Regions from separate parts of the Homo sapiens genome. Here all the other regions are linked to region 1. The links come from fine-mapping of genetic effects on gene expression. A gene starts in region 1. Each other region holds a variant in brackets. All regions are shown on one strand. Distances are from middle to middle. Region 1 holds the start of NOL3 (nucleolar protein 3). Region 2 overlaps DPEP2NB (DPEP2 neighbor). Region 3 overlaps CTCF (CCCTC-binding factor).

What was found.
Region 2: its variant is fine-mapped to the expression of NOL3 in whole blood (TOPMed, PIP above 0.99).
Region 3: its variant is fine-mapped to the expression of NOL3 in whole blood (TOPMed, PIP 0.99).

Annotation. Positions count from the first base shown.
Region 1 is chr16:67,166,665-67,174,916 of GRCh38, reverse strand. It overlaps NOL3 (nucleolar protein 3), which reads right to left and starts at 4,379. Exons shown (of 4, transcript NM_001276309.3): 1 at 4,343-4,379; 2 at 453-755; 3 at 1-296. The coding sequence starts at 747. It overlaps HSF4 (heat shock transcription factor 4), which reads right to left. Exons shown (of 13, transcript NM_001374675.1): 7 at 7,695-7,797; 8 at 7,318-7,442; 9 at 6,970-7,197; 10 at 5,981-6,086; 11 at 5,816-5,881; 12 at 5,569-5,638; 13 at 4,976-5,286. The coding sequence ends at 5,132. RefSeq lists silencers at 333-592, 2,329-2,492, 4,133-4,422 and enhancers at 490-1,412, 4,633-4,782, 5,273-5,322.
Region 2 is chr16:68,003,169-68,014,199 of GRCh38, reverse strand. It overlaps DPEP2NB (DPEP2 neighbor), which reads left to right. Exons shown (of 2, transcript NM_001282442.2): 2 at 1-764. The coding sequence ends at 92. It also overlaps the pseudogene KARS1P3. Among named protein-coding and RNA genes, the nearest start is that of DPEP2NB, 7.2 kb to the left of the region's middle. RefSeq lists an enhancer at 6,841-7,614. The variant C/G (reference allele first, on the strand shown) is at 6,142.
Region 3 is chr16:67,569,316-67,580,346 of GRCh38, reverse strand. CTCF (CCCTC-binding factor) reads right to left here. Exons shown (of 12, transcript NM_006565.4): 2 at 9,083-9,199. Among named protein-coding and RNA genes, the nearest start is that of CTCF, 12 kb to the right of the region's middle. The variant G/A (reference allele first, on the strand shown) is at 5,150.

The DNA of each region.
Region 1 (8,252 bases):
GGGCTCGGGCTCTGGGTCCGGTTCTGGCTCCAGTTCCGGCTCTGGTTCTGCTTCAGCCTCGGGTTCCAGCTCTGGCTCTGGCTCCGGCTCCGGTTCAGCCTCTTTAGAGGCCTCAGCTTCCAGCTCTGGCTCTGGCTCCTCCGGGGTCCCGGATTGCACCGCCTCGGAGCCCTCAGGGCCCCCGGCCTCGTCAGGGTCTGAAGCTCTGGGCAACCCGGGGCATGTGGTCCCCGAGCCGGGTGCCTCCGGCGTCCAGTGGCCTGGGCATGGAGGGTCATAGCTGCGGTCCCGGTAGCCTGGGGCGGAAGTGGGAGTGACTGAGGCTCAATTTACCCCTGTGCGGTTTCACACTCGCCTACTTCTAGCGGAGACGACAACCCTGCCCTCCCCGGGCCTTTTGTCTGCCCCAGCCCCGTCCCTGCTCTGCCCTAGGCCCCGCCCCGCGCGCTCACCCGGACCCACGTGCTGCCAGTCCCAAGCGGGGTCCGGCGCGCCCGCGGTACGCTGGGCACAGCGTAGCAGCTCCTGGCAGGCGGCCTCGCCCTTGCCCTGCACCAGCAGCAGTAGGCGGCGCACCCTGCGCTCGGCATCAGGCAGTGCATCCAATGCCTCGTACTCTGGCCCGGTGAGCACGCCCCGCGCCAGCAGCGCGTCCAACAGCAGTCCCGAGTCCGCCTGCAGCGTCTCGACCAGGCGTTTCCGCTCGCGGTCGATAGTCTCTGACGGCCGCTCCTGCGCGTTGCCCATTGTCGGGGCTGCATGGGGAAAGGGGAGAGAAGTAATGGGGGGTTGCCCTCCCCGCTGCCCTCGCCGCCTCTGACCACTCCCTCAATGCCCCCAGTGAACACCCAGGCTGGGGTTTAAGTTCACCTCGATCCCAGCCGCCGGACGGCTCCGCAAGCACAGGACCTGGAGGCCAACACGGGGAACTCGGTGTCCTCCTGCCTCTCCAGACGCTCTGTCCTGTCTCCTCCTCAGGCTCCTCCTTCTGTCCCCAAGCGTCAGCCGTGGCTCTCCTCTCCTCCCCTGCCTTTCCCAGGACTGGCATCTACTCTCTGAATGCCCTCCCCAACCAGGACGTCCTGAGCTCCACCCCCGGCAAATCCGAGGCGAGTTCAGACCCCGTTTATCCAAACTAAGGTCTTTCTCTCAAATCTGCTTCCCCACCTAACCAGGCAGAAAAACCTAGGATTGATGCTGATACTCCACACCCAGCTTGCAGACAAGTCCTTTCCAGTCTGACTGCTGAATATTTCTCTCACCATCCTCACCACTTACTAAGTCCAGCCTTCTGCCTCCTGCTTTGGCCCTGCAGAACCCAGGATCAGAGCTCCCTGCTTCCATACTCTATCCTCCAGTCCCCTCTGAACCCAGAGCACAAAGTGCTGAGAGCCTCCCTGCCCCTCTCCCCTTACCTTGACCCTGATATCCAACTTTCCAGGACAAGCCCCGCCTCTACACCCTCCCACCAACACCACCACCATAGTGCAACCCCAATGTAGTCTCCTGGCCCTTCCTGGTCCCCTGATTCCTGAGCAGAGATACCAGAATCTTCTTCAGGCCTAGCTCTGACCAAGATCTCTTGACATCACCTGAGACCCACCTGTCTCCCTACTGAAGCCCTAACTCCTAATGTGACTGTCTCTCTGCTGACCCACCTGGCTCCCTGCTGACCTGGGAATTACCTACAGACATTTGTTGTTTGATCTTGAAGTACCCAAGGCCTAGCTCATACAGGATACCGACAAATACTTGCCGAACTTGGACTGATTTTCCTCCATGGATCGCACTATTTTGAGAGACTTTTTTTTTTTTTTTTTTGAGATGGAGTCTCGCTGTTGCCCAAGCTGGAGTGCAGTGGCGCAATCTTGGCTCACTGCAACCTCCGCCTCCCAGGCTCAAGTGATTCTCGTGCCCAGCCTTTTTTTTTTTTTTTTTTTTTAGAGGTGGGGTCTTGCTATATATATTTTTTGTATTTATTTATTTTAGTGGAGACGGGGTTTCACTATGTTGGCCAGGCTGGTCTTGAACTCCTGACCTCGTGATCCACCTGCCTTGGCCTCCCAAAGTGCTGGGATTACAGGCGTGAGCCACCGCGCCTGTCCTGGTCTTGCTATATTGATCAGGCTGGTCTCGAACTGCTGGCCTCAAGCAATCCTCCCATCTCAGCCTTCCAAAGTGCTGGGATTACCAGCACTTTGTGAACCACCATGTGAACCACCATGCCTGGCTCTTGAGAGACTATCTCTACCAACAGCGGCTATTAGGGAGAGTCAATCTGCTTTATCCATTTTTTTTTTTTTTTTTTGACAGAGTCTCACTCTGTTGCCCAGGCTGGAGTGCAGTGGCACATTCTCTCATCACTGCAACCTCTGCCTCCTGAGTTCAAGCGATTCTTCTGCCTCAGCCTCCCGAGTAGCTGAGATTACAGGTGCCCGCACCACGCTCAGCTAATTTTTTGTGTTTTTAGTTGAGACGGGGTTTCACTATGTTGGCTAGGCTGGTCTCGAACTCCTGACCTCGTGATCCACCCACCTTGGCCTCCCAAAGTGTTGGGATTACAGGCATGAGCCACCGCACCCAGCTGCTTTGTCCATTTATTGTCAACCAAGGATTATGGCCCATTCCTGTGAGTGGCCTGACCCAGCCAGCAAGACCCCCGGCATTAGGAGGCAAAGACATCAGGCCTTGAACCATGCCCTCAGCCCACCCCCACCCTGATAATAACTTCTTCTCCTCCCCGCCTTGGCTTTGTTCACACGGCATCCTCCCATCTCTTCTTCCCTTTGCTGTCCCTCCTCTGCCTCCTTCTCTGGCTCTAGGAGGCTCGGCCTTCTCTGGGAGAGAGGATTTAGTCCTAGCCGCCATCCTGCCTCCCAGGTCTTTCTCAGTACCCTCTGGTGTCACACTATACCTCCCCCGTCACTTCACACCCTGGCTTCCTCCCATTGAAGCCCTTCCCCACCAGGCCGAGACCAGGACTACCCCCTGCCCCTCCATCTCCCTTTATGTCCCGTATGTGATGAATCTTGCTTCTCCACTTCTCAGTGAGTCTCCATCAGCTCCTGCCTTGCCACCCCACCATCGTCACCTCATGTCCTGTAACAGTCCCTCTGAGCCCCTCTCACTCCCATTCTGCCAGGCCCGATAGCACAGTGACTTTGACAACCCTCTGGGCTAGGATTGCTGTTCCCATTTTACAGATGAGGAGACAGGCTCAGAGATTCAGTGGTAAAACTGGAATCTTACTTGCTCCAGCCTGAACTATGAGGAACTGAACTATATTTTCCTGTCTAGCAGAATTCCATCCTAAATACCTATCTACCTCCCCCCCACACCCCACTGCCCATCAGAGACAACCCAAAATATCTGGTCTGGCTACTCTAGCCTCCTCCCACCACCCTGGACAGCCAGGCCCTTCCCAGCTTCCCTCCACCAGCCAGGGATCGGAGAACTCACTATGCCTCTGGCACCTCGGAGCCTTTGCTGATGCTGATCGCTAAGACTGGAATCCTTTTCTCCTCCCTCCGCTCCGTGGACCTATCCATCGTCCAGGACTCAAATGTTCCCTTGTCTACACCAATGCCTAAGTGTCCCAAGGGCTGGTGGTTCCTTCTTCTGTGTACCGTGAACAACACATGCCCTCACTAGTGCATTAACTGACATCATTGCACTGTGTACACGCAGACTCTCCGCTTTCTTCAACTGAGTTTTCCAGAGTGTCCCTCCAATCGGTGGGCAAAGGAAGGGAGAGGGGGACAGCACCTACTCGGGACAGACACAGGGAGGGTGCAGATTGGATTGGCCCCTCCTTCTCTCCAACCTAAGTTGTTTTCATGTTAGCCGCCTCCTCCTATGACCCCAAGTCCTGCCCTTTATCCTGTCTGGGGGTAGAGACTCCAGCTGGTCTGGGCCCTCCCTTTGAGGCTCACACAGCTCTCAATACCGAAGTTATTTAGCGGCCAGTCCTTCGAGGGTGACAGGTCCGATTCTTCCCAGAGAGCCAGGTGGCGGGGCACGGAGCTGGGTCCCAGCCCCCAACCCCACCTCGCTGCGCGGGCTCTTTGGCCAGGAAGCCAGGGTCTTGGGACAGTGAAGAGCCTTTGCGCATGTGCGACTGCACGGATTTTCCCCCCCCGCCCCTTACCTCCCTCCACCCAGTCCCAGAGCTTGAGAGTCCTGCGGCAGGGCGGGGCCCACAGTCCTACCCACCCCGCCCCCCCGACCCCCGAGCGCCGCAGCGGGTGGTGGGGCGCTGATTCTGCCCAATCTCGGTTTCCCTTCCCTCCCACAGCCGGGAGTGGGGCTCCCGGTCTGGCCCGTTTTGGGCGTCCCCACTCACGGGTCAAGCCTCGGCGGGGCAGGAGATGACGGTGCAGAAAGGGCCGGGCAGGGTGGGGGTGGGTGCAGCAGCTGCGGCGGGGGCGGGGCGGCCAGGGCTGCTGGGAATAGGGAGGGTGAGGGTTCTTCCCCGGGCACTAGGAGCCACACCGCGGAGGCCGCGCGCTGGCTGGGGACGTGCATGTAGTCAGCTTTCCCTCCCCACCCGGGGCGCACCAGGAGATGAGGCCAGGAGGGGGCAGTTCGGCCCGCGGCCCCACACGTCCAGCGCCCACTCAGGGCCTGCCAATTTCCAGGTGCTTTCCATCTATCTTGTCATCGACCCCTCTTCTCTGCCTGTCACAGAGGAAGTTCAGAGAAGGATACCAACTCACCAGGATCACAGAACGCATGCATTGCAGAGCTGAGCGCGACCCAGAAGCCCCCGCTTCCCAGAGATTGCAGCGGCCCCGCGCCAGCCCTGGACCCGGGCCTAAGCAAGGGAGCTAGGCACCGGATCCCCAAGCACCTCCACCCTCCTGGGGTTCCTCTATTAAAAACCTAGTATCTGGACGCTTCTACAAATGCAAAATCACCCCCCACCCATAACTCCTGTGCTCCCTGGTCGATAGAGAAAAGAGACCAGAAACAGAAAAAAAAAAAACGGAGTTTATGTGCAGGGATAGTCGGGGTAGTGGAGAGAGGCCATTTAGTAGTGGGGGCTTCGCTCACCCCCGATAGGGGGCGCCAGGAAGCCAAGAAGGATGTGCAGCGGCGGACTGGTTCCAAGCCCCTTCAGAGGCGCGGGGTCTTAGGGGGAGGGACTGGCTTCCGGGCCCAAGTAGGAGGCAGTCCGGCTCTCAGGAGTGCTATAAATGGTTAAAGCCCCAGGCAGGCCCAGGGCTGGGCCTCCCAAGGCCGCCTGGACATCCAGCAGGAGTGGGGCCCCGAGCGTGGGGTCCTTCCCTAGGAGAAGTGGGACTGCGCTCACCAGGGGAAATGTTCCCCCTCCTTTCTTCAGGGAAGGAGAGCCCTGCCCGCCTGCCTTCTGCTCAGTTAGGATAAAACATCCATTCTTAACCTCCCCACTCTCGCCCAATGGTGAGGGCATGGGTGGCTCAAGGAACGCTCTGCAGTGCAGCCTGAACTCAGGATTTCCCTGCAAATTGCAGATTGCCCCCTCACTCAATCAAGGTAGCTCAGCCCAATCACGGCGTCCTCCCAGGTAGGAGTCATCACAACCATTACCTGGGCTTGGAGAATTTAACCCCTTGACCGCCAGCTCAGGCTCACCCCGCTCTGGAACCAAGGGCTGCATCTGCGTGAGAACCGCAGGGAGCAGCTGGGGAGGGGACCTAGCAGCTGAGGGGGACAGCTGGGAAATCACTGTGACAATTCTTCTAGAGACACGGCTTTGGCTCACAGAGAACAGCTATGGACCAGAGGGCTTGACTCAGCCACCCCTGGCCTCTGCCCTCCCCGACCCACTTCTTACCAAGGACAGCTCCATGTCCAAGTCCATCAGGGTCCATTCTCGCCCTTGGAGACTGGGGCCCAGCACCTGAGGAGAGCTCTGGGTCAGTGGTGCCCTCCCCAGGCTCCACAGAGAGCTAGACCCCACCAGGTCTCATGCCCCTGTTTCAGCAGAAGGGGTACTCACATCTAGAGGCCCTGCAGGTTCCACACTTTCTTGAGGGGGCTGAAGCAGCATCGGAGGCAGCAGACTCTCTGGGCTCCTGTCCCCGCTTTCCAGGCCCAGAGGCCCCCTGTGCAGACAGAACTGCTTTTGGCCTGCAGTGTCCACCCCGCATTAAGTTCCCAAGGAACCCAGATGCATCAAGATTTTAATCCCCCAATCTTTAGAAAATGATAGGAGAGGATCCCCATCCTCTCTCCACCCCCAACCTCCCCACTCCTGCCATAAATGGCACAGAGAAAGTGCCTCTGCTTCCTACCTGGGACCTGAAGTTTGGGTGGTGGAGCTGGGGCTTTGGGACCCTTCCCCTCCCTATGCAAGTATCAATATCCATGCTTCTTTCTCTTCTTTCTTTATTTCTTTCTTTCTTCCTTTCTTTTTTCTTTCTCTCTCTCTCTCTCTTTCCTTCTTTCTTTCTTTTCTTTTTTTTGGAGACAGTTTCACTATGTCACCCACTATGTCACTATGGCACTGTCTTGGCTAACTGCAGCCTCCACCTCCCAAGTTCAAGCGACTGTCCTGCCTCAGCCTCCTGAGTAGCTGGGACTACAGGCAAACGCCACCACACCCAGCTAATTTTTGTATTTTTAGCAGAGGCGGGGGGTTTCACCATGTTGGCCAGGCTGGTGTTGAACTCCTGACCTCAAGTGATCTGCCCGCCTCAGCCTCCCAAAGTGCTGGGATTACATGCATGAGCCACCTCATAGCCACCAATGCTTCTTAAACTATTGTGTACTTTGCAGTCACCCCAGGGAACTCATTTCATATGTAGGTTCCTAAGCCCTTCCGCAGATGCTGAGTGCCCTGACTGGGAGGCTCTGCTTTCCACAGAACTCTGATGCTGGGGCCAAGAAATCAGGTGAGTATCATGGAGTCAAATGGCTAGGAAGCTTTGTGGGCTGGTAAGGGCTGTTCTATCACAGGGCTCATGGGCCAGCTGGGGCTCTGCTCACCTGTCAGGTATCTCCCTGGGATCCCCTGGTTCAGGCTGTTGGGCATTCCTGGGCCCCTCGGGGCTGAAGCTCCCTTTCCCTTCCAGGATGGCCTGCACCACAGCCACAGGCAGTGGCGGGGGGGCTGTCACGCAGAAGTCACACTCGTTTGGGGCCAGGGCCAGCCCGGCCTCGCCATCCCCCCCTGGACTGGCCGGCTCTTCTTTGAGCAGTGCCAGGCCCTTCTCCCTGCACCAGAGAAAAGCTTCAACCAGACCCTGGCACTGACTTCTCCCTCTACCCCTACAGCCATCTGGGCTGCCAGGCCCTCCCCCACAGGCCCCTCAGGGGCAGCCCTGTCCCCCTTACCTCCTGCCATCACTGGAGGGAGAAAGCCTGGTCCCCTCAGGGGATGGAGAGTCTTCTGGGATGTCAGAGATGATGGGGCCCCTGGCCCTGTGAGGGCTAAGGCCCAAATTTGTCTCTGGGAGAGGCTGTAAGTAGAAGGCTAGGCCCAGCCCTTGGCCTGTAGGCACAGGGAGAGCCAGAACCCCACCAACACCCACCTGGGCCAGGTCTAAGGGAGAAGGTTTGAGGGAGGAGGCTCAGTCCATGCTGGAGGGCCTGGGTCTGGTTGGGGGGAAGGCTGGCTTCCATCTTCTCTTCCTTTTAGGGGATGGGGAGAAGGAACAGGCTCTCCATAAGCCCAGCCATGCCCTTGGGAAGGGGGAAGAAGACAAACCTACCGACTGGATGAAGTAGGGGTCCTGCAGAAGGGCACCAGGTAGAGGGCAGGTGTTGAACTTGGCAGGTGTTGGGCATGAGCTCCCCTCATCCAGCATCAGGGACCTGTGTGGTCGATCAGGGCACAGGCAGGGGTGGGGCAGGGTCAGCCCCCATGCACCTCGGCCTGCACTTCCCTCCCTCCCTCAGGCCCCAGCAGCCAAGTCAGCAGAGCTGAGGCCTGTTGCTAGGGTGTCAGTCACATGCTGGAGGTGGAAGGGGCTCCCCCTAGAGATGGGGGCCCTTTGTGGGTAGAGAGGGGAGGGAGGGAACCTGGTTTGAGCCCCAGGGTCTCAGCTGTTGGGAAGCCTTGCCGGAGGGGGAAGGGGCTGCTGGGGTAGGAATTTGGGAATAAGGTCCTGGAATGGGAGGATCTGGGAGTGGGGATACCAGGTGGCAGAGTTGGGGGGAAGTGGATCCTAGATGGGGTGAGGAAGCCTGTAGCGCAGGGGGAGGAATGAGGATTCCCGGTGAAGGAGTTTCCAGAGGAGAAGGGGTCCTTGCAAGGGGACTTCTGGGGG
Region 2 (11,031 bases), 840 kb before region 1:
AGTCAGATAAAGACCTGGGTTGCTCTAGCCCCAAAATTCGGCGCTTGGAGCATCGTGGCAGGAGACTGACCCCACAGAAGCTTGCTGGCTGAGCCATTTGGGAGAAAGGACAAATGTTTAGCTGTCTAAGACAGCTAATGCCTCTTCTGCGGTGACCTCCCCTGCCCACCACTGCAGATAGAGCCTGAGTCATTCTGCCTATGCCTTCCTCATCCAGAAGCCCCCTTCCATGCTAACTACCCATGGCCAAGGAGCCTCAGAAACTGTGGTTTAAAATGAGAGGTTGCTTTGAACATCCCAAGGCTGAAGACGGCCTGGAAGAAAACCTGATGTTCCTCTACTCATCTCTCCAGAGTCCCTTTTTGGGCAGAAGATAGAAATAGTCTGCACTCTGCTAGCCGAGGAGTCAAGTGCAGAGAGGGAGTGCAGCATAGCCCAGTAAGGGCTTGATCTACCAGATGGGTCTTTGCTTTGAGTCACTGCCAGCAACTACCAGCACAAACCAGGAGGGCCAGGACTTGCTGAAACTGGAAGCAGCAGCCCATGGCTAGTCACAGCAGGAGAAAGCCTCCTGCTTGGCATCTCAGGAGGTAGAAGAAAGAGACCTGGGGAGACCTGCCACCTACAGCAAGAACAATAAGGAGGAAGTTGAGCAACATCCCCCTGAAGCTCACATGTTACTTTATTTCCTGCCCATTATGGCCCCAGTGAGGTCCCTACTGCTCAATTTAAAAAAAAATTAAAAAAATTATTTTTCCATAACAGTATTTGACTTGATCATCTTTTTTTTTTTTCTTTTTTGACGGAGTCTCACTCTGTCACCCAGGCTGGCGTGCAGTGGCACTATCTCGGCTCCCTGCAAGCTCCACCTCCTGGGTTCACGCCATTCTCCTGCCTCAGCCTCCCTGGTAGCTGGGACTACAGGCGCCCGCCACCACACCCAGCCAATTTTTGTATTTTTAGCAGAGACGGGGTTTCACCATGTTGGCCAGGATGGTCTTGATCTCCTGACCTCAAGATCTGCCCGCGTTGGCCTCCCAAAGTTCTGGGATTATAGGCATGAGCCACCATACCCAGCCTCTTTCTTCCTCCTCTTCTTATTCTTCTTCCTTCTTCCTTCTTTCTTCTTCTTCTCCTTCTCCTTCTCCTCCTTCTTCTTCCTCTTTTCTCTCTCTCTCTTAGATGGGGTCTCGGCCAGGCACAGTGGCTCAGTCCTGTAATCCCTGCACTTTGGGACGCTGAGGCAGTGGATCACCTAAGGTCAGAAGTTTGAGACCAGCCTGGCCAGCACAATGAAACCCCATCTTACTAAAAATACAAAAAATTGGCCAGGCGTGGTGGCTCACGCCTGTAATCCCAGCACTTTGGGAGGCCGAGGTGGGCGGATCACGAGGTCAGGAGATTGCGACCATCCTAACATGGTGAAACCCCATCTCTACTAAAAAATACAAAAAATTAGCCAGGCGTGGTGGCGGGTGCCTGTAGTCCCAGCTACTCGGGAGGCTGAGGCAGGAGAATGGCATGAACCCGGGAGGCAGAGCTTGTGGTGAGCCGAGATAGTGCCACTGCACTAAAGCCTGGGCGACATCCGTATCAAAACAAAAAAAAAAATACAAAAACTTAACTGGTCATGGTGGTGGGCACTTGTAATCCCAGCTACTCAGGAACCTCAGGCAGGAGAATCACTTGAACCTGGGAGGCAAAGGTTGCAGTGAGCCGAGATCATGCCACTGCACTCCAATCTGGGCAACAAGAGTGAAACTCTGTCTAAAAAAAAATAAAAAAAAAAAGGCCAGGCGCTGTGGCTCACACCTGTAATCCCAACACTTTGGGAGGCAGAGGCGGGCGGATCACAAGGTCAGGAGATCAAGACCATCCTGACTAACACAGTGAAACCCCGTCTCTCCTAAAAATACAAAAAATTAGTCAGTTGTGGTGGCAGGCACCTGTAGTCTCAGCTACTTGAGAGGCTGAGGCAGGAGAATGGCATGAACCCGGGAGGCGGAGCTTGCAGTAAGCCAAGATCACGCCACTGCACTCCAGCCTAGGCGACAGAGCGACACTCCATCTCAAAAAAAAAAAAAAAAAAGATGGGGTCTTGCCGTGTTGTCCAGGCTGGTCTTGAACTCCTGGGCTCAAGTGACCCATCTGCCTCAGCCTCCCAAATAAATAAAAATTTAAAAAAGAAACGCAGAGCCTGGCCGGCCACAGTGGCTCACATCTGTAATCCCAATACTTTGGGAGGCCAAGATGGGAGAATTGCTTGAAGCCAGGAGTTCAAGACGAGCTTGGGCAAGTAGTGAGATCCTGTCTCTACAAAAATAAAAATAATTAGTTAGGTATGGTGGGGTGCACCTATAGTCCTAGCCATCTGGGGGGCTGAGGCGTGAGGATCGCTTAAAGCCAGGAGTTGAAGGCTGCAGTAAGCTATGATCATACCACTGCATTTCAGCAGTCTGGGTGACTGGGTGACACAACGAGACCCTGTCTCAAAAAAGAAAGAAAAAAAGAAAAGCTAAAAAAATGTAGAGCCCAGTGAGTGTTTCCGTGTGTGTGTGTGTGTTTTAGAGAGTGTTAGGAGAGGGACAAAATAACTAAGAAGATGCTGCTCCATCTATCCACTCATCCATTCATTCATTTATTCAACAAGTATTTATTGGGCACTTTTTTTTTTTGTTTGACACAGAGTTTTCTCTCCTGTTGCCCAGGCTAGAGTGCAGTGGCACGATCTCGGCTCACTGCAGCCTCCGCCTTCCGAGTTCAAGCGATTCTCCTGCCTCAGCCTCCTGAGTAGCCGGGACTACAGGGGCACACCCCCACACCCGGCTAATTTTTGTATTTTTAGTAGAGATGGGATTCACCATATCGGTCAGGCTGGTCTCGAACTCGTAACCTCAGGCGATCCACCCACCAAAGTGCTGGGATTACAGACATAAGCCACCGCACCCGGCCTATTGAGCACTTCTTACATACCAGCCACTGTGCTGGTTGCTTGGGATATATTGGTGAATGAGAAACTCCTCCCCTCAAGGCACCCACAAACAATATAATTTGTTCATAGAGACAAACAATATAATTTTTGTTGTTGTTGTTGTAGTTGTTTTTCTTGAGACGGAGTCTCGCTCTGTCACCCAGTCTGGAGTGGCGCGATCTAGGCTCACTGCAAGCTCTGCCTCCTGGGTTCACGCCATTGTCCTGCCTCAGCCTCCCCAAACAATATAATTTTAGATAACTATAACTGGTATAAAGAAAAATGAAACTGGATAAGAGAATACAGTAATGAGGTGTGCTGTGTTACACCAGGTGGTTAGGGAAGGCTTCTCTGAGATGATGACATTGTGGCTGAGATGTGAGGGAATCGTGAGGAGTAGAAGGGAGAGCATTACTGGAGGAAATTTCAAGTATAATGGTAAGAATGAGACTGATCCATTTTTTCTTTTTTTGAGGTGGGGTCTCACTTTGTCTCCCAGGATGGCGTACAATGGTGCGACCTTGGCTCGTTGCAACCTCTGCCTCTCAGGTTCAAGTGATTCTCCTGCCTCAGCCTCCTGAGTAGCTGGGACTAGAGGCACATGCCACTACACTCGGCTAATTTTTGTGTTTTTAGTAGAGATGGGGTTTCACTATGTTTGCCAGGCTGGTCTTAAACTGCAGACCTCAGGTAATCCGCCAGCGTTGGCCTCCCAGGGTGCTAGGATTACAGGTGTGAGCCAACACACCCGGCCTACAAGACTGACCAATTTGAGGGCCAGCAGAAAGGCCAGTGTGGCCAGGGAAGAAAGATAGAGGAGATTGAAAGATGTGGTGGCTGGGAGGCCAAGGAGGGAGGGTCACTTGAGCCCAGGAGTTTGAGACCAGCCTGGCAACATAGGGAGGTGCCCTTTCTACAAAAAATCAAAAAATCAGCTGGGTGTGGTGGTGAATGCCTGTGGTCCCTAGCTACTCAGGAGGCTGAGGCAGGAGGATTGCTTGAGCCTAGGAGGTATAGGCTGCAACGAGCCATGATCCTGCCACTGCACTCCAGCCTAGGCAACGAGTGAGACTCTGTCAGAAAGAAAGAAAGGAAGGAAGGAAGGAAGGAAAGATGGAAGGAAGGAAGGAAGGAAGGAAGGAAGGAAGGAAGGAAGGAAGGAAGGAAGGAAGGAAGGAAAAAAAAATAAGATGGTTGGAGGCCAGGTGCAGTGGCTCACTCCTGTAATTCCAGCAATTTGGGAGGCTGAGGCTAGTGGATCACCTGAGGTCAGGAGTTCGAGACTAGCCTGGCCAACATGGTGAAACCCTGTCTCTACTAAAAAATACAAAAATTAGCTGGGTGTGGTGGCAGGCGCCTTAATCCCAGCTACTTGGGAGGCAGAGGCAGGAGAATCATTTGAACCCGGGAGGCGAAGGCTGCAGTGAGCCGAGATCGAGCCATTGCACTCAAGCCTGAGGGACAAGAGTGAGACTTGTCTCAAAAAAAAAAAGAAAGAAAAGAAAAAGGTGGTTGGAGAAGTAAGGAAGTAAGCAAGTAAGCATGGGCCAGACCATAGTGGGCCGTGCCAGCCACGGTAAGGACAGTGGATCTTGTTTTAAGTATATTGGGAAGTCATGGAGGAATCTGAATAAGGTAGGGAAGTAATCTGATATAGATGCTAAAAAGATCCGTCTGACTGCTGCGTGCCATGGTAGTGAGGTGCTGGCTGTTACCAGGGGGACTGTCTCTCTCTGCAGCTGGGACAGCTGGTGCTGGGGACTGGGGGATGGAGGAGCAGTCAGCAGAGAAGAAACACCATGACGTTTGTCCCAAGTCTGCCTGTATCAGCAGCCCAGAAAAAGGCGGCACTGTCAGCAACTCACTTGTCCTTAGGGGTCCCAGCAGCAAGACTGTTGCTCCTCCCCCCAACACGCATACCATGGAGGCCAGGAAAGGTCCTGATAGGTTTTCCTAACTTGGGTTAAAGGAAGGAGGCACAGGCCCTGGGCTCCCAGAAAGTTCCCTGTGAGAGTCTCCATTAACCCCCAGAGTCTCTCATCCGTGGCGTGACTGAAGCAGATTTGTGGTTCCTGGATGGCCTGGATAGTTTGGCAGTTCCCAAAGCTGAAACAAATAGACTCAACTGGGGCTCTTAAAAAAGAGTGATCCCGGCCAGGCGCAGTGGCTCACACCTGTAATCCCAGCACTTTGGGAGGCCAAGGCGGGGAGATCACGAGGTCAGGAGATCGAGACCATCCTGGCTAACACGGTGAAACTCCGTCTCTACTAAAAAATACAAAAAAAAAAAAAAAATTAGCCAGGTGTGGTGGTGGGTGCCTGTAGTCCCAGCTACGCGGGAAGCTGAGGCAGGAAAATGGCATGAACCCGGGAGGCGGAGCTTGCAGTGAGCTGAGATCGCGCCATTGCACTCCAGCCTGGGTGACAGAGCGAGACTCGGTCTTAAAAAAAAAAAAGTGATCCCCAGCACCCACACCAGTCTAAAGTTTTAGGGTACTGGCCTAGAAATCCACAGTATTAAAAGCTTCCCCTCAGCTGGCCATGGTGGCTCATGGCTGTAATCCCAGCACTTTGGGAGGCTGAGGTGGGAGGATTGCTTGAGCCCAAGAGTTCGAGACCAGCCTGGGCAACACAGCAGCACTCCATCTCTACAAAAAATATTAACAGTAAAGAATTAGAAAAAAAAATTTTAAATAAATAAAAGCTTGCCTTAACTACCAGTTTATAGAAAACACAAGGACACAGGAACATGTTAAATGACACCATGAGATGCAATCAGAAAACTCTACAACATGGAAAACTCTAACGGACAAGGACGTGATTTTTTCAACAAAGAAATTGCAAGGAAGACAAAAAAAAGAAGAACCTGAAGATTGAGTCATAACAACCATTTACAATGTGGGCGGTCTGAGCTCCATTACAGTTCAAACCAATGAATTATTTAAAAATTGGACAATCAGATAAATTTGAACATGATAGATAATTTATGATACTAAAGAATTGGGCTGGGCACGGTGGCTCATGCCTGTAATCCCAGCACTTTGGGAGGCAGAGGTGGGCGGATGACATGAAGTCAGGAATTCAAGACCAGCTTGACCAACATAATGAAACCCCGTCACTACTAAAAATACAAAAAAATTAGCCAGGTGTGTTAATGCGTGCCTGTAATC[C/G]CAGCTACTTGGGAGGCTGAGGCAGAAGAATCCCTTGAACCTGGGAGGTAGAAGTTGCAGAGAGCCAAGACCACGCCATTGCACTCCAGCCTGGGCAACAAAAACAAAACTCCGTCTCAAAAAAAAAAAAAAAAAAAGGCCGGGCGTGGTGGCTCACACCTGTAATCCCAGCACTTTGGGGAGGCCGAGGCGGGTGGATCACAAGGTCAGGAGATTGAGACCATCCTGGCTAACATGGTGAAACCCCATCTCTACTAAAAATACAAAAAATTAGCCAGGCGTGGTGGCAGACACCTGTAGTCCCAGCTACTCGGGAGGCTGAGGCAGGAGAATGGCATAAACCCGAGAGGCGGAGCTTGCAGTGAGCCGAGATGGCGCCACTGCACTCCAACCTGGGCGACAGAGCGAGACTCCATCTCAAAAAAAAAAAAAAAAGTGGCTGGGTGTGGTGGCTCATGCCTGTAATCACAGCACTTTGGGAGGCCAAAGAGGGAGGACTGCTTGAGCCCAGGAGTTCGTCACCAGCCTGGGGAATAAAACAGGACCCTGTCTCGGCCAGGCGCGGTGGCTCATGCCTGTAATCCCAGCACTTTGGGAGGCCGAGGCGGGTGGATCACGAGGTTAGGAGATCGAGACCATCCTGGCTAACATGGTGAAACCCCGTCTCTACTGAAAATACAAAAAAATTAGCTGGGCATGGTGGCGGGTGCCTGTAGTCCCAGCTACTCGGAAGGCGAGGCAGGAGAATGGCGTGAACGCAGGAGGCGGAGTTTGCAGTGAGCCGACATCACCCCACTGCGCTCCAGCCTGGGCAACAGAGGGAGACTCTGTCTCAAAAAAAAAAGACCCTGTCTCTACAAATTTTAAAAGAAAAGTACTGTTAACTTTTATAAGGGTCATAATGGTATGGTAATTGCCATTTATTTATATATTTATTTATTTTATTTTATTTTTCAGAAACAGGGTTTTAGTATGCTGCCCAGGCTGGCCTCAAACTCCTGGGCTCAAGCAATCCTCCTGTTTCAGCCTCCCAAATAGCTAGTAGGACTACAGGAATGGCCCAGTGCACCTGGCTTATAGTTGTCTTTTAAAAACAGCCATTACCATTTATTTATTTATTTATTTAGAGACTGAGTCTTTCTCTGCTGCCCAGGCTGGAGTACAGTGGCATGATCTCAGCTCACTGCAATCTCTGCCTCCTGGGTTCAAGCAGTTCTCCTGTCTCAGACTCCTGAGTAGCTGGGATTATAGGTGTCCTCCACGACAACCAGCTAATTTTTGTATTTTTAGCAGAGATGGGGTTCGCTATGTTAGCCAGGCTGGTCTCCAACTCCTGACCTCAGGTGATCCACCCACCTCAAGCTTCCAAAGTGCTGTGATTTCAGGCAAGAGCCACGTGCCCAGCCTAAAAAGAGCCCTTACCTTTTAGAGAGGCATACTTAAAAATGGATGAAATAGATGTCTATGATTTGCTTTAAAATAATCTGTAGAAAGAGGTGAGTGAGAGCATAAATGAAATAAGATGAGCCATCAGTTGGTAATCTTTGAAACTGGGTGATGGCTACATGGGAGTTAATACACTTTTCTCTCTCCTTTCTCATGTATTTGCAATTTTTCCTATAAAAAGTTTTTTGGTCTGGGCACAGTGGCTCATGCCTGTAATCCCAACACTGTGGGAGGCTAAGGTGGGAGGATCACTTGAGACCAGGGGTTTGAGACCAGCCTGGCAACATGGTGAAATCCCATCTCTACCAAAAAAAAAAAAAAAATTAGCTGGGTGTGGTGGCACCACCCTGTAGTCCCTGCTACTCGGGAAGCTGAGGTGAGAGGATCACCTGAGCCCCGAATTTGAGGCTACAGTGAGCCATGACGGCACCACTGCACTCCAGCCTAGGCCACAGAGGGAGATACAGTTTCAAAAAAAAAGTTTTGTGTTGTTGTTTTTAACTAAGCTTCTCAGATTCACCCAGATGCGGAGTCAGTGAGATCTCACATGGTCAGCTTCACAGGAGGGCAGGCTTTCTGCATAAAAACAGGAAGCTTAGAGAGCTCCGGGGCAGGGTGTGCTGTGACTTCACTGTGTTTTTGCAGAAACAGGTCTGATAGCCCTCGGAGATCAGCAGACAAGGTTAAGCAAGAGACAGCAAGTCTGAATTTGAGGTTAAATGTGAAATCACACATGTTGTCTAGATGTTTGGTCAGCACTGGCTCCTGGATCTTGGGGGCCTCTACAGAGCCCACCCTCCACCCCCATGTGCTTATGCCAGCACATGTGATAGCTGGAGACTTATCCAGCCACCTCACTGCACACCCCAGCAAATGGCCAGCACCAGTGGGTGATCAGGAAATGATGCCCGGACAAACTGATAGATGTAAGGAATTTGAGGCTGGGCACAGTGGCTCACGCCTGTAATCCTAGCACTCTGGGAGACTGAGGTGGGCAGATCCCTTGAGGTCATGAGTTTGAGACCAGCCTGGCCAACATGGAGAAACCCCTGTCTCTACTAAAAATAAAAAAATTAGCCAGGCATGGTGGCGTGCGCCTGTAATCCCAGGAAGCTGAGGTAAGGAATTTGAGGCCTTTCCTAGAGGCAGCAGCTGGAAGTGGAGGGATTGAAGGAACCCCTCATCTGACCAGCTGCTCAATTTTCTTACCCACACGATAAGGCTGGTTCCTTAACTACACGGCCACGTGAAAAAAACAAAAAACAGGGCCAGGCACAGCGGCTCATGCCTATATTCCAGTACTTTGGGAGGCTGATGTGGGAGGATCACTTGAGGCCCGGAGTTCGAGACCAGCCTGGACAACATGACAAAACCCCATCGCTACTAAAAATGTGAATATTTAGCTGGGAGTGGTGGTGGGTGCCTGTATTCCTGGTTACTCTGGAGGATGAGGTATGAGAATCCCTTGAACCCTGGAGGCAGAAGTTGCAGCGAGCCGAGATTGCGCCACTGCACTCCAGCCTGAGCAACAGAGCAAGACTTCATCTCAAAAAAAAAAGAAAAAGAAAAAAAACACAATTTTGGGTCCAGGCCCTCTGGGAAGATGACTGCAGTACAAGGGGCCAAGGTTAAAGTGGATGGTGGTGAGTCAAAACTGAGCAAGAACAAGCCGAAGAGATACCTGAAAGCCGAGAAGAAAGTGGCAGAGAAGGCAGCCAAGCAGTAAGAGCTCAGTGAGAAACAGCTAAGCCCAGGTCACTGCTGCTGCCACCAACCATACCACTGACAATGGTGTGGGTCCTGAGGAGGAGAGCCTGGACCCAAATCAGTACTACAAGATCCACAGCCAAGGCCAGGCCCGGTGGTTCACTCCTGTAATCCTAGCACTTTGGGAGGCTGAGGCAGGCAGATCACTTGAAGTCAGGGGTTCGAGGCCAGCCTGGCCAACATGATGAAACCCCATCTCTACTAAAAATACAAAAATTAGCTGGGCATGGTGGCACATGCCTGTAATTCCAGCTACTTGGGAGGCTGAGGTAGGAGAATCGCTTGAATCTGGGAGGTGGAGGTTGCAGTGAGCTGAGATTGAGCCACTGCACTCCAGCCTGGGCAACAGAGCGAGACTCTGTCTCAAAAAAAAAAAAAAAAAAAAAGATTTGCAGTCAGGTAGGTCAATGGGAAAGACCCATACCCCAACGAGATCCATGTAGACATCTCCCTCACTGACTTCATCCCAGAATATTGTCACCTGCAAACTGGGGATCTCCTGACTGATATCACCTTAAACGTGACAGATAGGATCCATGCCAAAAAAGCTTTTGGAGGAAAGCTGAACTTCTATGATCTTTTTTTTTTTTTTTTTGAGATGGAATTTCACTATTGTTGCCCAGGCTGGAATGCAATGGCACAATCTCAGCTCACTGCAACCTCCTCCTCCCTAGGTTTAAGCAATTCTCCTGCCTCAGCCTCCCTAGTAGCTGGGATTACAGGCGTGCGCCACCACGCCCGGCTAATTTTGTATTTTTAGTAGAGGTGAGGTTTCTCCATGTTGGTCAGGCTGATCTCGAACTCCCAACCTCAGGTGATCTGCCTGCCTGCCTTGGCCTCCCAAAGTGCTGGGATTATAGGCGTGAGACACAGTGCCCAGCCATGAACTTCTATGATCTTTGAGCAGAGGGGGTCAAGTTGCAAGTCATGGCCAATTTCAGGAATTATAATTTCAGGAAGAATAATTTATTCATATTAATAACAAACTGCGTTGGGGAAACATAATTGGAATTCAGAGGAATCCTGGGAAAAACCAAGAAGGATGAGCTGAGCTTCATTCCCTATGAGATCACACTGCTGTGGCCTTGCTTGTATATGTTACCTCATCTTCACTTTGGCCTCAAAGACAAGGAAATAAGGTATGGTCAGAGATACTTGGACTTGATCCTGAATGAATGAGGCAGAAATTTATCATCTGCTGTAAGATCATCACATGTATAATAAGTTTCTTAGGCCAGGTGCAGTGGCTCACGCCTGTAATCCCAGCACTTTGGGAGGCCAAGGCAGGCAGATTGCCTGAGGTCAGGAGTTCGAGACCAGTCTGGACGACATGGTAAAACCCCACCTCTACTAAAAATACAAAAATTAGATGGGCGTGGTGGCAGGTGCCTATAATCCTAGCTACTCAGGAGGCTGAAGCAGAATTACTTGAACCCAGGAGGTGGAGGTTGCAGTAAGCCAAGATTGCACCACTATACTCCAGCCTGAGCAACAAGAAAACTCCATCTCAAAAAAAAAAAAAAAGTTTCTTGGATGAGCTGGGATTCCTAGAGCTTGAAACTCCCATGAATGAACGTCATCCCAGGGGAGCTATGACCAAGCCTTTCATCACTTATCACAACAAGCTGCACATGAACTACTCTAGAACTCTACCATAAGATGCTAGTGGTTGGTGGC
Region 3 (11,031 bases), 400 kb before region 1:
TCCTAGCTACTCAGGAGCTTGAGGCCAGATGATCACTTAAGGCCAGGAGTTCAAGGTTATAGTGAGCTATGATCACACCACAGCACTCTAGCCTGGGCAACAGAGCGAGAGTCTGTCTCTAAATTAATTTAAAATAATCATTATAATTTAACAAACTAGACAAACAGCAATCCCAGTTATCCCACCTTAAGTCAGGACAGCATTACATCTTGCATGGACCAATGCAATGGCCTTCTAAACAGTTTCCCTGCTTCCCCTCTTGCTCCATTACCCACCATTTTTCACACAGCGGCCACGGATTTCTAAAATGTAAATCCATTATCAGCAAGAAGACTTCCCTTCTGAAACCACCATGCTGAAAACTCTTAAAGTCCAAACTCTTTCACATGGCCTACCAAGTGCTTCAGGGCCCTATCAGCAGATCTGCATCCAGCCTGACATACTCGCCTCTAATCACACTGAACTTCTTTCAGTAGCCAGAACATTCTAGGTCTTTCCTTTCCTGCCTCTGGGCCTTTGTACATGCCATTCCCTCTTCTAGGAATATACAAGCAATTCTCTATGTTTACACTAGTACACGAGCCTAAAGATGTGTATATAAGAAGGCTATCTACTACTAGGGTATTTTTCTCTAATGGCAAAAGATTAAAAACAAGCTGGGCGTGGTGGCTCATACCTGTAATCCCAGCACTTCAGGAAGCCTGGGCAGTTGGGAGGCCAGGGCAATTGGGAGGCCGAGGCAGGTGGATCACCTGAGGTCAGGAGTTTGAGACCAGCCTGGCCAACATGACGAAACCCTGTATCTACTAAAAATACAAAAATTAGCCGGGCATGGTGGCATGTGCCCATAATCCCAGCTACTCGGGAGGCTGAGACAAGAGAATCGCTTAAACCTGAGAAGCAAGGATTGCAGTGAGCCGAGATCACGGCACTGCACTCCAGCCTAGGTGACAGAGCAGCAAGACTCCGTCTCAAATAAAAAAAAAACAAAAAAAAACAAAGATTGAAAACAACTCAAACGTCTAGAACAACGTGTATAGTAAGCTACTATTTGTGCTTTATTTTTTATTTTTATTATTTATTTATTTATTTTGAGACGGAGTTTCACTCTTGTTGCCCAGGCTGGAGTGCAATGGCGATCTCGGCTCACTGCAACCTCCACCTCCCAGGTTCAAGCGATTCTCCTGCCTCAGCCTCCCGAGTAGCTGAGATTACAGGCGTGTGCCACCACACTCCGCTAATTTTTGTATTTTTAGTAGAGATGGGGTTTCACCATGTTGGTCAGGCTGGTCTTGAACTCCTGACCTCAGGTGATCCACGCACCTTGGCCTCCCAAAGTGCTGGGATTACAGGCGTGAGCCACCACGCCCGGCCTTTTATTTTTATTTATTTATTTTTGAGACGAAGTCTTGCTCTTGTCCCCCAGGCTGGAGTGCAATGGTGCAATCTCGGCTCACTGCAACCTCCACTTCCCGGGTTGAAGCGATTCTCCTGCCTCAGCCACCTGAGTAGCTGAGATTACAGGCGCCTGCCACCACGCCCAGCTAATTTTTGTATTTTTAGTAGAGATGGGGTTTCACCATGTTGGCCAGGCTGGTCTCGAATTCCTGACCTCAGGTGATCCGCCTGCCTCGGCCTCCCAAAATGCTGAGATTACAGGCGTGAGACACCATGCCCGGCCTATTTGTGCTTTTTTAAAAAGATACATAAACTTGGCCAGGCACATTGGCTCATGCTTGTAATCACAGCAATTTGGGAGGCCGAGGTGGGTGGAACACTTGAGGCCAGGAGTTCGAGACCAGCCTGGCCAACACGGTGAAATCCCATCTCTACTAAAACTACAAAAATTCGCTGGGCATGGCCGCACATGTGTGTAATCTCAGCTACTTGGGAGGCTGAGGCACAAGAATCACTTCAACTCAGGAGGTAGAGGTTGCAGTGAGCCAAGATCACGTGTCTCACTCCAGCCTGGGCAACAGAGTGAAAACCCTGTCTCAAAAAAAAAAAAAAAAAAAAAAAAAGATACATAAACTCATACATTTGAATATACGCAGAATTTTCTTTGGATGGATACATCAGAAATTGGTATTTATTGCCTCTGAGGAAGAAAAATGAGAGATCAGAGGCAAGACTGAGGATTACTTTTCATTATTAACATTTTGCACTGTTTGAAGTATTTCCCCCTCATGTTCTTACATTAAATGTGGTGGTTACAGAAAATTTCCATAGCACAATTATATTTTGTTTAAAAAGTTGTATTATATGTACATGCCTGTTAATAAAAGTGCAAAGTCAACACACCAGACTATTAATAGTCTTCAGCTCTGGGAAAACAAAGTTAAGGGATTCTTTAGGTTCTAATGTAATTCTACAATCATTAGACTCTTCCAAAGAATGAAACTAAACATTACTTGGGTAATATTTAAACAAAGTTTAAGACCAAATTTAAGTGAGGATCACTGCAAGAACTGCCTCTGCAACCTCAATCCCCTCTAACAGCTGGGCAGATGCAGGAGCTTCCTCCTGCCTTACTCTCCTCCTGGCTGCACTTCTATAACTGTTCCAGTGGCCCTCTCGATTCCACTCAAGAAGTCTAGACTGGCTGGGAGCGGTGGCTCACGCCTGTAATCCCAGCACTTTGGGAGGCCGAGGTGGACGGATCACAAGGTCAGGAGATGATGAGACCATCCTGGCTAACACAGTGAAATCCCGTCTCTACTAAAAAAAATACAAAAAAAAAAATTAGGCAGGCGTGGTGGCAGGCGCCTGTAGTCCCAGCTACTCAGGAGGCTGAGGCGGGGGAATGACATGAACCCGGGAGGCGGAGCTTGCAGTGAGCCAATATCGCACCACTGCACTCCAGCCTGGGCAACAGAGCGAGACTCCATCTCAAAAAATAAAAAAAAAAAAAGAAGTCTAGACATTACTGCCAAGTAAACTAGGCAAAAACACCTTTTATCATTTCATTATCCTTTTTTTTTTTTTTTTTGAGACAGAGCCTCCCAGGTTCACACCATTCTCCCACCTCAACCTCCTCAAGTAGCTGGGACTACAGGCGCCCGCCACCATGCCTGGCTAATTTTTGTATTTTTAGTAGAAACGGGGTTTCACTGTGTTAGCCAGGATGGTGTCGATCTCCTGACCTCGTGATCCGCCCACCTCGGCCTCCCGAAGTGCTGGGATTACAGGTGTGAGCCACCACGCCCGGCCCATTTCATTACCTTTATCAGAAAGTTTCAGTGCTACTTCCTACTGTACTGCATTCCCTTTTCCTTTAAAAATTATGCAATACAGGCAACAGGAGAAAGCTTAAAGAAACCTACCTATAGGTTTTATACACACATTCTGGCTTATATCCAAATTCGCAGTCCCCTCCCCAATATATACATATACTTACTCTCACGAGATCATACCATACATATTGTTTGATAATCTGCTTTCTTTGTACTTTGTTTCAAATATCTTGCCATTTCAACATATTTTTTATACATAATGGCTACACAACATTCTATTATAAGGCCAGGCACGGTGGCTCACGCCTGTAATCCCAGCACTTTCGGAGGCAGAGGCAGGCGGATTACGAGGTCAGGAGATCCAGACCATCCTGGCTAACATGGTGAAACCCCATCTCTACTAAAAACACAAAAAATTAGCGGTTCTAGCTACTCAGGAGGCTGAGGCAAGAGAATGGTGTGAAGCCGGGAGGCGGAGTTTGCAGTGAGCAGAGATCGTGCCACTGCACTCCAGCCTAGGTGACAGAGGGAGACACCATCTCAAAAAAAAAAAAAAAAAAAAACATTCTATTATAGGGATGTATCATAATTTAACCAGTCACCTATTGTTAAATATTTTTATAGCCAGATTTTGGTAATTCTGCTTTAATCTAAGAAAAGAAAAAAAGTATTTGCATTAAAAAAAATTACACAAACTATACAAAACCAACAAAAAGTGACCCCCAAACCAAACTACCCTCACACTACTAGTTTTGACTGATGATTTCCACGTCTGTTTAGTCTTTTTTCCCTAGGCATTCATTCATCCAAATAATTACTTATTGAGCTTCTGCTATACGCCAGGTTTTAGTTTGGGATTTTCTTTACTTTTATTCCATAATAATTAACTTTTTGGTATTATGCTATTAAAAAACCTCTCTCATAAGCATTTTGCTGGTTAACAGCCTTCCGTTTTTTTTTTTTTTTTTTTTTTAAGACAGGGTCTCACTCTGTCACCCAGGCTAGAGTGCATGCAGCCTTAACCTCCTGGGCTCAGGTGATCCTCCCATCTCAGCCTCCCAAGTAGCTGAGACTACAGGTGTGCACCACCACACCTGGCTACATTTTTTTTTTTTTTTTTTTTTACAGACAAGGTCTCACTAAGTTGCCCAGGCTGACATTCATCTTTTTAAATGGGTTAGGGTTTTATATCCCTTGCAACATGCAACGAGACCTTGTTTTCTTACCCACTTCTCTACTGCTCAACAGATTTTCTGATAAATCTAACCCATTTTCCTATGGCACAATATTTCCGTTTAGTTCATTAACATTTGTATTATCTGGTGGTCATCGAAGTTCAGTTTAATGCAAAATATATACAATAACCAACTTGGCTGGGCGCGGTGGCTCACGCTTGTAATCCCAGCACTTTGGGAGGCCAAGGTGGGCGGATCACCTGAGGTCAGGAGTTTGAGACCAGCCCAGCCAATATGGTGAAACCCCGTCTCTACTAAAAATACAAAAATTAGCTAGACATGGTGGCGCACCTGTAGTCCTAGCTATTCAGGAGGCTGAGGCAGGAGAATCGGTTGAACCCGGGAAGCAGAGGCTGCAGTGAGCCGAGATTGCACCACTGCACTCCAGCCTGGCGACAGAGCGAGACTCCATCTCTCAAAAAAAAAGAGGAAAGGGAAGCCCAAGGAAGTCACCTCTAATAGAACTGCCCTGCCCAAGGCCATATAGCTATTAAGCTGCATGGCCAGGACTTGGAGTCCTAATGGGATTAAAATAAAATTCATCCTCCCAAAGTGCTGGGATTATAAGCATGAGCCACCACGCCCAGCCTCAGAAAACTTAATTCTTACTTACTTATTTGTTTATTGAGACAGGGTCTTACTCTGTCACCCAGGCTGAATGAAATGCAGTGGTGGGACCAC[G/A]GCTCATTGCAACCTCAACCTTCTCAGCTCAGACGATCCTCCGGCCTCAGCCTCCTGAATAGCTAGGACTACAGGCATGCAACACAACGCGTGACTAAAGAAAATGTAATTCTTTTTTTTTCCTCTATCCACAAGGACATATGGAAAAAATGTAATTCTTAAATGCCACTTATGTTAAGAGCAATATGTTAATAACAATACTTAGTAATTGTAAAACACACAGTTAAGAATAGATGCTTTTGGCTGGGCGCAGTGGCTCACGCCTGTAATCCCAGCACTTTGGGAGGCCGAGGCAGGCAGATCAAGAGGTCAGGAGATCAAGACCATCCTGGCTGACAAGGTGAAACTCTGTCTCTGCTAAAAATACAAAAATTAGCTGGGTGTGGTGGTGGGCGCATGTAGTCTCAGCTACTTGGGAGGCCGAGGCAGGAGAATGGTGTGAACCTGGGATGCGGAGCTTGCAGTGAGCCAAGATTGCACCACTGCACTTCAGCCTGGGCAACAGAGCAAGACTCCATCTCAAAAAAAAAAAAAAAAAAAAAAAAAAGATGCTTTTGGCTGGGCGTGGTGGTTCATGCCTGTAATCCCAGCACTTTGGGAGGCCGAACTGGGTGGATCACCTGAGGTCAGGAGTTTGAGACCAGCCTGGCCAACATGGCAAAACCCCATCTCTACTAAAAATACCAAAATTAGCCAGGCGTGGGGGTGAACGCCTGTAATCCCAGCTACTCGGGAGACTGAGGCAGGAGAACTGCTTGAACCTGGGAGGGGGAAGTTGCAGTGAGCCGAGATCACGCCACTGCACTCCAGCCTGGGCGACACAGTGAGATTGTCTCAAAAATAAATAAATAAAGTAGTCCTCTTAACAAACTGGCAAATCTAAAGAAGTGTTTCCTTGAGGTCTGTGAACTGCTTTAGCAAACTAATGGAACCCAAGAAAGAGGTCGTGGGAAACTCAACTTGAAGCCAGTTGGTCAGAAGCTCTGAAGGAATGGGCTTGTGACTGGTAGGAAGGACAGGTGGTCTTATGGGACTGAACCCTAAACGTGTGGGATCTGACACCATCTTGGGTAGATGGTGTTGGATGACACCTAGTTGGCATACACTGTTTGGTGTGTGAGGAAAATCCCTCCACCCCATCTTTGGTCACGTAAGTCTTTTTTTTTTTGAGATGGAGTCTCGCCTTGTCGCCAAGCCAGAGTACAGTGGCATGATCTCGGCTCACTGCAACTTCCGCCTCCCGGGTTCAAGCGATTCTCCTGCCTCAGCCTCCCCAGTAACTGGAACTACAGGCACGCACCACAACGCCCGGCTAAATTTTGTATTTTTAGTAGAGATGGGATTTCACCATGTTGGTCAGGATGGTCTCAATCTCTTGGACTTGCAATCTGCCCACCTTGGCCTCCCAAAGTGCTAGGATTACAGGCATGAGCCACTGGGCCCAGCCACGTAAGTCTTCTTTTGTGTTGATGGTGGTTGTTATGTGAAAGCAAAGGAAAAACCTGGGCTTGAGAGTTTTTCCCTACACAAATACTACAAGGACAAAGTAAGGAGCAGGATAGCAGAGCTGTTCTATAGCTCAAATGTATTGCTTCTCAAACATATCCACTATAGAACCTATACAGAGAGAACTTCCCACCCTCAGGCACTCATGCTCATTTTGTTGAAGACCTATGTTATCTTAATCATACAGTTTTCATTCTGCTCCAAAAATGTCTATTTGTTTTAATATAACAATATTTAATATTTATTTATTTATTTATTTTTTGAGACGGTCTTGCTCTGTCACCCAGTCTGGAGTGCAGTGGTGTGATCTTGGCTCACTGCAACCTCTGCCTGCCTCCTGGTTCAGGTGATTCTCCTGCCTCAGCCTCCCGAGTAGTTGGGATTACAGGCACGCACCACCACACCCAGCTAATTGTCTTCTTGGGGTTTTTTTTGTTGTTTTTTTGAGACAGAGTCTCACTCTGTTGCCTGGGCTGGAGTGCAGTGATTTCAACTCATTGCAACCTCCGCCTCCCAGGTTCAAACAATTCTTCTGCCTCAGCCTCCCGAGAAACTGGCATTACAGGTTCCCGCCACTACACCCAGCTAATTTTTTGTATTTTTAGTAGAGACGGGGTTTCACCATGTTGGCCAGGCTGGTCCCGAACTCCTGACCTTGTGATCCGCCCACCTCAGCCTCCCAAAGTTCTGGGATTACAGGCGTGAGCCACCGCGCCCAGTCTTTTGTTGTTTTGGGGGGGGGGGCGGGGGGGGGCAGACAGAGTCACTCTGTCGCCCAGGGTGGAGTGCAGTGACACAATCCTGGCTCACTGCAACCTCTGCTTCCCAGGTTTAAGCGATTTTCCTGCCTCAGCCTCCCAAGTAGCTGGGATTACAGGCACCCACCACCACACTCGGCTAGTTTTTATATTTTTAGTAGAGATGGGGTTTTACCATGTTGGCCAGGCTGGTCTGGAACTCCTGACCTCAAGTGATCTACCTGCCTTGGCCTCCCAAAGTACTAGGATTACTGGGATTTTGGAGGCCTTGGCCTTCCAATGTACTGGGTGTGAGCTACCGTGCCTGGCCAATATTTAATATTTAATCACTGACCAGTTAAATTACTTAACTCACCACCTCCTCTATGACTATAACTGAAGTTCTAGGAAGATGGGTCATGTTTATCTTTCTTGTGACTCCAAGTACCCCGAAATCATACCACCTGATTCCCTAAGGGTATTCATATCCCAGTTTGAGAAACAGGGATCTAAGCAATTAAGCTAGTCATAACACTTGAAAGTGATTAACGTGTTCCTATAAACCCATTCCCTAAACTCTTAAAGGTTCGATTTCTCAATAGTTTTTAAATCAGCAACTTTTGGTATGCACTCTGTGTCAACACTCCTAAAAGAACCTGCAGGGCGTAAGTTATTTTTGGAGTGACAGAATACTACCACAGACCTTCTCCTTCCCATCTAGCAGGATAACAAGTTGCCCATTTGGAAAATAAAGGTTTGAAGAATAACAGAACTTTCATTCCTATTCCCTTCTCTTTATTTGCTCCAGGCAGAGCTTGTAAGAAAAATCTTAGTAGTCATTTAGATGATTCATTCACATAAGCTTATCTAATCCTGGCATTTGTAATTTCCACTTCTACATTCCTTTTTGCCATTACACATGTACGATTAAATTATTTTCACATTTTTCTAGGGTCTGAAAAAAATGTGCTTTCCGGTACCGTGAGAAGAGATAATTTTTACAACCAGAATCCCACTTTGTTGTTTATGAGATCCCAAAGCATAGTAGATTCCAATATTTATAGAAGGTCTGTTCCAAGTTCCATATAATGTCCATTATATTTTATAGCAAAAATTACAGGCTAAATTAAAATGATAATCACTGTCACACTCTGACGCAAAATGGGCAATGAGCTAGGCTAACTCAAATTAAGACAATTTTTATCCAGGATACCAGGTTCCCCAAGAACAGGATTCCATCTGTTTCTTATCAAAATTACAAGTAGCCACAGGTCATGGACTTTCTTTTCAGTTCATTTGCCAATAGTCAAAATACACATTCCAAGGGTTTCTACAGAAAAGCAGCCACAATTTCCTGGGATCTTTCTATGTACATGTTCAGAATAGTACTTAAAGCTTTACAAAACACATTCTCATTAACGGAGAATAGTCTCTGAGATTGGTGGTGTTATTCTCTCACAAGTGAGGACTACAGGAGTAGACAGGTTAAAGTAACTTGCCCCATATTACCCAGCTAGTATATCATCGTAAAGAGTTTCAAACCCAGGACTCTGATTATGAAGCCTGTATGCTCTCAATCACCTGATATCCTGCATCCCCTATATTCAAGAATTAGCCAACAAATCCTCCAACTCCAGGAGGGTTATATTACTACCATTTTTAAGATAGAAAAAATGGAAATAGCACTTACCTCTCCGTGGCTGCAAAGTCAGTTTGAGGAGGGAAAATAGAACCCAGCTCTCAAGCCCCTGGTCAGCAATCTGTCCACTAGCGCATCTTGTTCTTTGGCTTCAGGTCCGTAATCATTCTAAAAGAAAAGCACAAATCATTTTATGAAACACTAAATTCATACAAATACGCATATAGTATGAAAAAAAATGAGGGAAAACTGAAGACAGAAAAAATTGGGAAAGAAACAAAACACCTGTTCATGTCATGTCACTAACCGAGCCATTCCATAAATGTCCACCATCAAGCCAATAACAAAACATTCATTTATTTTTTCACACATTTGCTAAATATATAAAGGACTAAAGGTTTCTAAGTAGCAAAATAGTACTCCAGGCTCACACCAGTAATCTTAACGCTTTCGGAAGCCAGGGTGGGAGACTCACCCAGGAGTTTGAGGCTGTACTGAGCTGAGATTGTGCCACTGCATTCCAGCCTGCTTGACAGAGTGAGAGATCTTGTCTCAAAAAAAAAAAAAAAAAAAAAGGCCAGGCGCGGTGGCTCATGCCTGTAATCCCAGCACTTTGGGAGGCCAAGGCGGGCAGATCACGAGGTCAGGAGATCGAGACCAGCCTGGCTAACATGGTGAAACCCCGTCTGTACTAAAAATACAAAAAATTAGCCGGGTGTGGTGGCAGGCGCCTGTAGTACCAGCTACTTGGGAGGCTGAGAATGGTGCAAACCTGGGAGGCAGAGCATGCAGTGAGCCGAGATCGCACCACGGCACTCCAGCCTGGGCGACAGAGCGAGACTCCGTCTCAAAAAAAAAAACAAAACAAAACACTCCACTGCAATATTGCAACCAAATAATGGCACACATATTCAAACTACCAAAAAATTAATTATTGGCTGGGCGCAGTGGCTTACGCCTGTAATCCCAGCACTTTGGGAGGCCGAGGCAGACAGATCACGAGGTCAGCAGATCAAGACCATCCTGGCTAACACGTGAGACCCCGTCTCTACTAAAAATACAAAGAAAAAAATTAGCCGGGTGTGGTGGCGGGTGCCTGTAGTCCCAGCTACTCAGGAGACTGAGGCAGGAGAATGGCATGAACCCGGGAGGCGGAGCTTGCAGTGAGCCGAGATCCTGCCACTGCATTCCAGCCTGGGCAACACAGCGAGACTCCGTCTCAAAAAAAAAAAAAAAAAATTAATTCTTATGGCTGCAGTAATGGCTCTCTAACAGTTTATTTCCGTATCTTTAGCAAGTAGTGGTCTTACTGATTAAGTTTGTTCATGCCACAAGTAAAGGCTATGCTTTCCAGTTTAGTAAGATAACTGGGGAAGCCAAGGCAGGTGGATCACCTGAGGTCAGGAGTTTGAGAACAGCCTGACCAACATGGCGAAACCCCATCTCTACTAAAAATACAAAAATTAGCCAGGCGTGGTGGCACACGCCTGTAATCCCAGCTATTCAGGAGGCTGAGGCAGGAGAATCGCCTGAACCCAGGAGCCGGAGGTTGGAATGAGCCGAGATCGCGCCACTGCACTCCAGCCTGGGCGACAGAGCTAGACTCCGTCTCATTAAAAAAAAAAAAAGATAACTGGCAAAAGGAGCTTTTACTGACCTTTGAAAATCCTAGAAGCATAGCAATGAAACAGTTTTTTTAGTCGAATAACGGAATACTTTGTTAGATGGCATCTTTTCACCCTAAATTACAAAATGAACTGTCAAGCTTCAAGCAAAGGTAGAGTGGAACCTACCTCTAAAGAAAAAGAAAGAAAGAAAGAAAGAAAATCCCAGGCCAGGCACAATGGCTCACACCTGTAATCCCAGCACTTTGGGAGGCCAAAGCGGGCGGATCACGAGGTCAAGAGATTGAGACCATCCTGGCCAACATAGTGAAACCCCGTCTCTACTAAAAATACAAAAATTAGCTGGGCATGGTGGTGCAGGCCTGTAAACCCAGC